Homo sapiens: one gene and its partners. The protein of the gene in region 1 purifies or fractionates together with the protein of each later gene. This does not show direct contact. Each region holds a gene or a part of one and is shown in the gene's direction. Other genes may lie near its edges.

Region 1 (3,662 bases):
AATTTGTTGAAAAAAAGGAGTGTGTGTTAGTTTGCTAGTCTGGTGTAATAAAACACCACAAACTAGGTGGCTTAAACCACAGAAATTTATTGTCTCACAGTTCTGGAGATTAGAAGTCAGAGATCAAAGTGTCATCAGGGTTGATTTCTTCTGAGAGCTCTGAGGAAGAATCTGTTCCATGATCTTTCTGTAGCTTCAGTTGGTTTTCTAGTAATCTTGGACAGTCTTTGGCTTGTAGGAGCATCACCTGATCTCTGCCTTATCTTCGCATTGTGATCTATGTATCTTCTTCCAAATTTCTCTTTTTTATAAGGACACTGGATGAGGGCTCACCTTAATGACCTAATATTAACTAATTATATCTGCAATGAGTCCATTTCTAATAAAGTCACGTTCTCAGGTACTAGAGGTTAGGACTTCAACATATGAATTTGGGCGCAGGAACACAATTCAACCCATGACAGTGTTTTACTAAATAATAGTGAAATAGATAGTAAAATATAGATCAATAAATCAGTAAATGTTTGTTTATATTTATTTACAATGAATGCCCTGCCTTCTAAAACTGATTACAGTAATTTAAAATAAAAGCTATATATACTAATAAAACACATTAAGAAATAAAAACATTTAGAAACCATACCTAGGGAGGAAAAAATTAATCTATTAAATATATAGTCTAATTTAGCTCCCAAAATTGACTTTTAAATTTAGTTATAAAATTCCATAAAGTGAACACAACTCTATCATTTTATCAGAGTAGAAAGACAGTTTTCTGAAATCAAATTTTAACAGTATTTTGCCATATTAATCTTTTCTTGGGGGATCGAAAACAAAATCATAGACAATGTCTTTATTAATGGTTTTATCACAGTATAGAGAAATTCTTCACATGAGTCTTTCATACTTCAAAATAAAGTTAAATCATTATTTTCCATGTTACATAGATGTTATGGTTCAAGTGTGTAATTTTCGGTAATCTAACTATACAAGGACAAATCTTAAAATATTAAATCTAAGAGAATTGCATGAATAATATGCCCCTTACCTTGTCCTCATGTATCAGTTTTATTATTCTGCTTTATCATTTATTCACCAATTCTCATTCTGCTTTGAGTTAGATGTCAGATGAGATGGTTAAAGTACTATCTGCACTTAAACTTTCTAATATATCTATATTTCAGTGGAATAAATAAGGTTCATGATAAAAGTTTAAGACATTTTCTAAAATCTTTTGTAATGATTTGGCAGAGGTTTATAAATTATTGTGCTTTTTCTTGTTGGTAAATGATGTGCTTTGACTTAGTTTCTAATTATATAATTATTCCAAATTATGAGAAAAATTTAAAACCATGCTTTTTCTGTATGTGTGAAGAATGTTTTTGACTTTTAGTTTGTAGCACTTCCAACTGATGAAAACTCTAGCATCTAGCCAAATATTAAGAGGTATGGGTTGTGCTTGGGAACACCAGGTATTATAAGCATTAATAATAGTTAATAATTAATAATGTGATTTATTAATAATTAGCAATAGGAATATTAATGTGGTTTTAATGTGACAAGCATTGTGGTAAATGTTTCATATATATTAACTCAATTATTATAACAATTATGACACTTTTATACTATACTCTATTGAAGTGATGGCTAAATTGAGGCACAAAGAAGTTAAGTAACTTACTGGTCACGGAACTAGTAAATTTGGAGCTGGGATTTGAACCCAGGTACTCTGACTTCAGAAGCTTGTTTTTAAAGACTGAACTGATGATTGCTTTCAGAACATTTTTATTGACTTCTCTTCAAGTTCACGGATTTCTTTCCTCAGCTGTGTCCAGTCTGTGATAAGCCAATTGGAAGAATTCTTTATCGCTGATAACTTGTTTTTTGTTTCTAGTATTTCCATTTGATTGTTTTTTATATTTCCCACTTCTCTACCAAATTCCCCACTGGTTCATATTTTTTTGTCCACTTTTTCCATAGATCCTTTAACATATTAATTAGAGTTTATGATAGCTCCAGTATCTGGGTCAATATCTTGGTCTGGTTCTGTTAACTGCTTTCTCCACAGTGACTTCTTTTTTTTTTTGGCTCTTTGTGTATTTTGAAATTTTTTTTATCAAATATTGGACATTATGAGTAAAAAACAGTAGATACTGAGGTAATAGTATTTATGATCGGAAATAGGTATGCCTTGTCTGTCAGACCACTAGTTGGTTGGACTTTGTGCTTTTAGTAATCTCTGTATGGTGCCTGTGCCACAGAAGCTCTTTTCTTCATGCGCTTACTCCTGCCCAAGCTATAGACTGCTGTTGCTTGTTACTCAGTACCCAGTTTATGGTGAAGGCAGAGGGGTATTTGTTAACTTTAACCCAAAGCCTCTGTCTTTGGTAGATTCTGTAAGCCTCAACCTCAGGGGTATGATTTTGTCAACATTTTTACTCCTTCTCCTGTAATAGCCAAACTCTACTGTGTGTATGTTTATGGTCCTGGATGGAGACAACTTTCCTTCTCCATTCTCAGTGGTAGCAGAACGTCTGCTTTGTGTTGGTAGAGGATTTCCTTCCCTTCTTTTGGTGGCTTTTCTTAGTGGGTGCTTTAGTATGTATAATATTAATCTTTAAATTATCACAAATAATATGTCATTTCATGTATCTGATAAGAACCTTACAATAATACACTTTGATTTTCTTATTCCATTCTGTGTGCTATTATTGTCATACCTTAGGTTGTTGACAGTATTTTTTTTCTCTTTCAATACTTTAAAGGTGTTGCTCCATTGCATTCTGGCTTGAATAGTTTCTGAAGAAAAACATGCTATAAATTTTATCTTTATTTTTTTAATTTAATTTTTCTCTTTCTTCCCCTCTGGTTTTCAAAGATTTTTTTATTTCTCTTTGATGTTTAGTGGTTTGTGACGTGTGGAGGGTTTTTTCCTCGCTTGGGTTCATTAAGCTTCTTGGATCTGTGATTTATTTTCTTTTATGAATTTCAGAAAACTCTGAAACATTTTCTCTTTAAATACTTTTCCTATCCCTTTCTTTTTTTCTTTTCTGTTCCTGAGACTCTAAATACATGTATTTTAGTATGTTTGATACGTCCAGACAGGTTTGGGATGCTCTGCTTTTTTTGTTTGTCTGTTTGTTTCCACTCTCTTTTCTCTTTGTGTTGCACTTTGTTTAACTTCTTTTGACCTAACTGATTCTTTCTCTCTGTGTCCAGTCTGCTCAGAAGCCCATGACTGTTATTCCTCCATATTGTAATTTTTAAAAAATTATCATTTCCATTATATTCTTTTATAGTTTTTATCTGCAGAAATTATTCATTTGTTAATGAATTTTCTCTGACTTTATACCACATCCTTTGACATATTAATTGTATTTGTTGTTAAAGTCCTATCTAATAGTTCCAACATTGGGGCCATTTCTGGTTCTGTTGACTGTTGTAGCTCTTAACAATGAGTCTCTCTTTTTTTCTTTCTTGATTTTGTCATTGAGTGCTGGACATTCTGTTTAAAAGAATAATAGAGACTGTATATGTCCAGAAATGGGCACACCTATTTTTCTGTTTGGCCGTTAGTATGGGACTTTCGAAACTATTTGCTCAGTAGTCAAACTGGGGTTGAGCTGGGTTTTGTGTTTTGTTATTGCTGATTTCCACAAATC
Region 2 (3,662 bases), on another chromosome or scaffold:
AAGAAGATTACACACAAGCATATGAAAAGATGTTCTACATCATATGTCATCAAGGAAATGCACATTTAAAACAATGAGATACCACCACACACCTGTTAGAATGGCCCAGATCCAGAACACCAACACCACCATTTGCTGGTGAACATGTGGAATTCTCATTCATTGCTGGTGGGCATGCAAAATGGTGTAGCCACTTTGGAAGACAGGTGAGCAGTTTCTTACAAAACTAAGCACACTCTTACCATGAGATCTGGCAATTATGTTTCTTGATATTTACCCAAAGCAGTTGAAAACATGTCCACCCAGAAACCTGCACATGAATGTTTATAGCAACTTCAGAATTGCCAAAACTTGGAAGCAACCAAGGTGTTCTTTATTTAGGTGAATGGATAAATAAACTCATACTTCTAGACAATGGGATATTATTCAGTGCTATAAAGGAATGAGCTGTCACATCATGAAAAGTCATGGAGGAGCCTGAAATTCATCTTACTAAGAGAAAGAAGCCAATCTGAAAAGACTGCATACTGTATATTTTCAACTATCTGCTGTTTTGGAAAAGGCAAAACTAAGAAGACAGTGGATTGGAGGGGAGGGAGGGATGAATAGGCAGAGCAGAGAGGATTTTTTGGGGCAGTGAAACTACTCTATAATGATGGTTACATATCATCATCTATTTGTCCAGACCCACAGAACGTACAACACCAAGAACGAACTCCAATGTAAATTATGGACTCTGGGTAATAATGATGTACCAATGTGTGTTATCAGTTGTAACAAATGTACACTCTTGTTGGGGATGTTGATAGTCGGGGAGACAAGACAGGGAACATATGCGAAATCTCTTCCTTCTGCTCAGTTTCATTGTGAACACAAAACTACTTTAAAAAGTAAAGTTTATTTTAAAAAGAGGAGGTCTTAGGACAGAACCTTAGAGAATTCTTAATATTGAGGAACTAGCCTTAGAATAGTTCTGCTCTTCCTTGTGAAAATAATTAACTTAAATATCTGCTCTGAATATAAAACTGAACATAAGCTGTTTTTGAGTAAATTTTCTGTAGGCAAATGATGAAATAATTTTTTTTTACCTGTTTTCTGATATAATGACCCTTAGCATTCATACTTTCAACAGTCTCAGCTTTGATACTCAGAAACAACATGGAGAGCCAGAGAATATAGTAATTTGTTATTTTGCTGAGGCACAAATTCAAACCACATTCACTTTAAGACTCCCGTTTGGGAGAGTAACTTAGCTCTTGAGCAAGCTTACCATTCCTTTGTGTTATCCTCTGCTCCTCATCTCTTACTTAGTGACACCTGAAGGATGTGAAAGAATTACGTATATTTGTTCATTAGTTTCATGCATATTAATTGGGAAATTCCATGTAGTATTGGTGAGTTTGAGGATTAACAAAGATTTGTATTGGGCCACATATCTTGAAAATACCAAGGATGTACTATGCCTATTGTAAATTAAATTTGGCTTTGTCTCCTAGCATTAGAATTTTTTATGACCAACACTAGGAGTTTAGTTATGATAGGGGAAAAAGGATAAATATTTGAGTACCTTGTTTATATAAGAATAACTTCTTTTTTTTCTGCTTAGGGAAGCATTCAGTGGAGATCTTAATAAGGATTGACTTTTCTTGGTAACAGAATTGATATCAGTGGTACATGACATCTATGCAGCCAGACACAAATCTGAACTCGTTGGACCCTAAATAAGTGTTTAAATATTTGTTATATTTCCCAAAATGATTGGTTTGTAAGATGGTTAATAGTAACTTATGCAAAAGTCCAGAAATTAGGTGTTCTTATTCACTGAGAAAAGTCTGCCTTAAAAATTAAACTTTTTTTTTCTGATATTAAGAGCACTATGAAAATATATAGAATAAAAAGTAGAAGCTATCTTCTGCCCACTGGGTAGAAGTCGGCTTATCCTACATTGGGTGTTAATCCTTACATTTTTCCATGCATTTCTATACATGTATGTACAGATGTACAAACATCATTTTAGGGTTTAATTTGTTTTGTTTTCCCTTAGTGGGGTAATACAATAAGTATTATTTTCCAACTAGCAGATTTTTTTTTTTTTTTTTTTTACTGCAGCATTTCTCAGAGTTTGCATTATGCCTTGTGCATTGTGAATCTCCAAAAATGGGATACATGATACTGCATTTGTCAACTTGACCATAGAAACCTCTTATCCAGGAGCCTCTTATAGAAACACTGGTTTGGGGAGTATTGATTTGCAGTTTTTGCCTAGTATCTGGGAAACAGGGTGGTGATTTTGCTTTATGATCCAGTTAATGGTGAGTCACTTTATAATATAAAATTATTTCACATTTGGCCTTTTTGTTTAGATCTGTTAGTCAAGTGTATTGGTGAAGAAACCAAGTATGAAAGCATCAGACTTCTGTTTGATGGCTTACAGCAACCAGTACTCAACAAGCAGGTAAAGCTCATTAAAGCTCGTAAACTCATGCTGGCTAGGTTTGGTGAACGACGTAGTAAGGTGTCTGGTAACTCATTAGTTGTATAAATGACACTATACTAAACCAAGGCAATATAATTTTAAACATTCAGATAGAAAAAAAGTTTTATTTGAGTTACTCTTTTTGTTTCAGTTTTTTCTAAATAAGATGAATTATTTTGATTTAAAATTAATATATAGTAATTGTAGAAAATTTGGCATAGAAAATTCATGAAATACAGTAAAAAATTAAAAATGGATAATTCCATTATTCAAGTCACATAGAATAACCAGTTAACATTTTTATGTTTATGGTTTATGTAAACTATGTATAAGCTTTATATATTCTGTTGAGATCTCAATACAGTTGTGATTTTGTGTTCTTGTTTTTCTAAAAATTCAAATATTTAACATAAAAATGAATTAATGAGGCATAATGAAAGTGTCCTCATGCAAACACATGTGTACTTATTACCTATTTTGAGAATAGAACATTATTGATACTACTGAGGCTACTTTTGTGCTTGTTTTATATTATCAGTCCCATTCCCTGCCTTCCCACTTAGAGGTAACCACAATCTTTAATTTTGTGTGTATCATTTTTATGGTTTTTGTGTTTAGTGCCTTAACATTTATTATTATTATTTTTTGGTGCTTTAGCTGACTTATGTTTTATTGGACATTGTGATACAGGAACTGTTTCCAGAGCTCAATAAGGTAACTGAAAAGCAGTAATTTTATTCATGATTTTCTTAATGGTATGCTGACATTTATTTTAATTAGGGACATAAATGTAAGAAAACCCTTGTCTCTGTTCTCTGTGGTTCTTTAAAAAATTAACCTCAGCAAATTGCCTTTTGTATTTTCTTTATTAAACATGCCCAAACAATTCTGGGGGACAGCTATTGAATAGCTTCTGCTTTGACTTCATCCCTTTTTAATTACAAGCAGATAGGGACCCTATATAGTCTTTCCAGGGGAAGAAGTGAGTGTAAGTCCTAGCACTAGAATAGGCCAAGCTCAGTGTTATCGTCTGCACCATTGTATGCTGTGTAAGTCAGAAACTAGAGTATTTTTGAAGCAAGTTTTATGTAAACCCAAGCACAAAATGAACTAAAATTAGAGCATGGTCATATTATTACTATGTTGAATCTTGAGGATTTTGAGTTTTGAGCAAAGGTTTAAGTCA
Region 3 (2,789 bases), on another chromosome or scaffold:
TGAAATTTAAAATTTTCCTTTAAACTAGCTCATTCTGTTTATTTTTACCCATTTTTATTCTATGGCAATACTTCATAAGTATCCACCTTAAAGTTTTTTCAAATAATTCTGTTGTTTTTCCTACCTACAAAATCTTCAAATATATCTTTACTTTAATCATTTATAATATCATGTTCTCTACCTTATAAGAAAGCATCCAATTGAAGAAAGAGGCCAAATTACACTATGATTCCTTTGCCAATTTCACTATTAGGTTCTTAATAATGAAACTAAATAAAAAAGGACTGTATTCAGAAGACACATATTTTAACATAGCATTTATTTCCTGTTCATTCAGTGGAAAGTCTACTGAGAATATTCAAATAACAATTTTAAAATATAGGTAATTCTGGAGAGCTAAGAGTTCTTTCTTAACAGTGCTGTAGGAAGATACAATCTTTGTATTATTTTGTTGAGTTGCTAGCAAACTTTATTTTATATAGGACCTATTAAATTGTCCTTCTAAGATGAATGACATTTAAAACATGAACTATTATTTATACTTAAAACTTGAGGCCAGACACGGTACCTCAAGCCTGTAATCTCAGCACTTTGGGAGGCCAAGGTGGGTGGATTGCTTGAGCACAGGAATTCGAAACCAGCCCAGACAACATGACAAAACCCCTTCTCTACAAAAAATACAAAAATTAGCTGGGTGTGGTGGTGTGTACCTGTAGTCCCAGCTACTTGGGAAGCTGAGGTGGGAGGATCCTTGACTTGGGAGGTGTATGTTGCATTGAGCTGAGATGGCACCACTGCACTGCAGCCTGGGTGACAGAGCCAGATCCTGTCCCAAAACAGGAAAAAAACAAAAACCAAAAACTTGATAACTTTTGCTTCTCTGCATGTGTATGTTTGTGTGTTTAACTATTAGCTTTTCTTAGCCATATACTCCGGGGCATGATGTTATTAGAACTTTGAATGTATATATGTAACAATATCTAGGCTGGGTGCGGTGGCTCATGCCTGTAATCCCAGCACTTTGGGAGGCCGAGGCGGGCGGATCACAAGGTCAGGAGTTTGAGAACAGCCTGACCAACATGGTGAAACCTCATCTCTACTAAAAATACAAAAATTAGTCAGGCGTGGTGGCACGCACCTGTAATCCCAGCTACTCAGGAGGCTGAGGCAGGAGAATCGCTTGAACCCGGGAGGCAGAGGTTGCAGTGAGCCAAGGTCACACCACTGCACACCAGCCTGGGTGACAGAGTGAGATTCCATCTCAAAAAAAACAAACAATATTTTATGATGTCCAGAAAAAAGCATTTTTTTAAAACTCCAACTAATTTTAAGTAATGTTTTCATTTTTCAGGATATAAGATACAAATGAATGCAAGAAAAACTATAATGTCATTTTAAAATCCTTTTTGTGATACTAGTTTTGGGGGCCTAAACTTAGAAACAATGTTTTCAGAAGAAGTAGTCAGTTGTATAAACATTGATTTGTGATTTTTTAAATGATATAGATATACTCTTTAGAATACCTGCATCAGGAATAAGAACTATTTCCTCATGGAAATCAAATGCATAAACTAAAATGGAAGGAACCTGAGTAAAGTTACCTCTATAAAAGCCATCTTGGTTATATTAAAAATATGAGCTTATATTTGTTAATGCTCTACCTTTTGTATATCTTTTTGTTTTCAGCCCACTTCGATGTGTTGTTCTTGTCGCACTTAGGGACATCAATCAAGGAGAAGAGCTTTTTTCAAACTACTACACAATTGTCAGCTAACTCTGTGAATCAGAAATTATTAGGTTTTCTACTCAGCTATTAATTCTAAGTGTTTTTTGTTAATCACTTCTCTGAGTTCTACCTGTAAAACAAATATTTTGAGACTTAATTGGAATAGGAATTTCTTATGTTTTTGTTGATATTATATTTATGTTCCAATTTCATGATAAAAGCTACTTGCTTCATTACAATTTCAAATTTGTAATGCAATTCCAAGTTTAATTGGTTTTCACCTAAATACACAATAGCTTATTAAATTAAAACCTACTCTTTGAACTTATAATTTCAATTTTTCTTTTGTTTATTTTGTAAGCTCTGTGGTGGTTTATAAAATTGTAGCCAGGCATCAGCAGTTCTTGTAGTACTGCTGATGTGTACAAACTTCTGTAAAAACTTTATTTTTACAGAATTGAGTAAAAAATACCTATTGTGTTGCCATGAGTAAATTGGTGTGTCTATGTATAATGTAAAGATTGCTCTAGCTGGCTGAGGGGAAAATGTGAGGTCATTATTACTATTTTCTTTACTCTTTGAACATTTTCACACCAAAGAAAAGGTGGAAAAAAAGTGCAAGATAGTGTTGGTGGGAGGAACACTTATTCCCCGTGTCTCATGTCTTCATGTGGAGGGCTTCCACTGGTTAATGTTCCTAGCCTCTCTCTCCACCCACTGGAGGGAGATTGACTCCCTGATTATGTTTGGAGAATAACTAGGCACCCATGTCCTATATACCCTTCTAGTTCCTTCCCTGTGGACTCTGGCTGCCAGCAGAAAGAATGTGTCCTGGCAGTTCTCTGCCTTGTGCAGAGAATAGCCTGTAGCCAGCCCAGCCAGTGACAGAGTGAGTCCAGAGGTGTAATATATTGGCAGGCCAACCTGGCTGCAGCCCTGAAGCTACCTTCCCGTTTTATTAGCAATAGTTACTTTGACCTCCATCGACCTGACTCCAGCTCTCTCAGTTCCAAACTTGGATAGGAAGGAGGGTGTTCTTTACTGGATCCCTCAAAAATTCATG

What was found.
Region 2: the proteins of SLC30A7 (region 1) and SNX14 purify together in Homo sapiens (affinity purification with mass spectrometry; one large-scale study listed by BioGRID and IntAct). This does not show direct contact.
Region 3: the proteins of SLC30A7 (region 1) and SETD9 purify together in Homo sapiens (affinity purification with mass spectrometry; one large-scale study listed by BioGRID and IntAct). This does not show direct contact.

The regions. Positions count from the first base shown.
Region 1 is NC_000001.11:100,902,459-100,906,120, forward strand, and holds part of SLC30A7 (zinc transporter 7), read left to right. Parts: intron 1-3,662. UniProt on the Homo sapiens protein: Zinc ion transporter mediating zinc entry from the cytosol into the lumen of organelles along the secretory pathway.
Region 2 is NC_000006.12:85,506,761-85,510,422, reverse strand, and holds part of SNX14 (sorting nexin-14), read left to right. Parts: intron 1-1,606; coding exon of another isoform or gene 1,607-1,653; exon of another isoform or gene 1,654-2,103; intron 2,104-2,109; coding exon of another isoform or gene 2,110-2,147; exon of another isoform or gene 2,148-2,363; coding exon 2,364-2,455; intron 2,456-3,133; coding exon 3,134-3,190; intron 3,191-3,662. UniProt on the Homo sapiens protein: Plays a role in maintaining normal neuronal excitability and synaptic transmission. May be involved in several stages of intracellular trafficking. Required for autophagosome clearance, possibly by mediating the fusion of lysosomes with autophagosomes.
Region 3 is NC_000005.10:56,915,129-56,917,917, forward strand, and holds the end of SETD9 (SET domain-containing protein 9), read left to right. Parts: intron 1-1,686; coding exon 1,687-1,774; 3' UTR 1,775-2,220; downstream 2,221-2,789.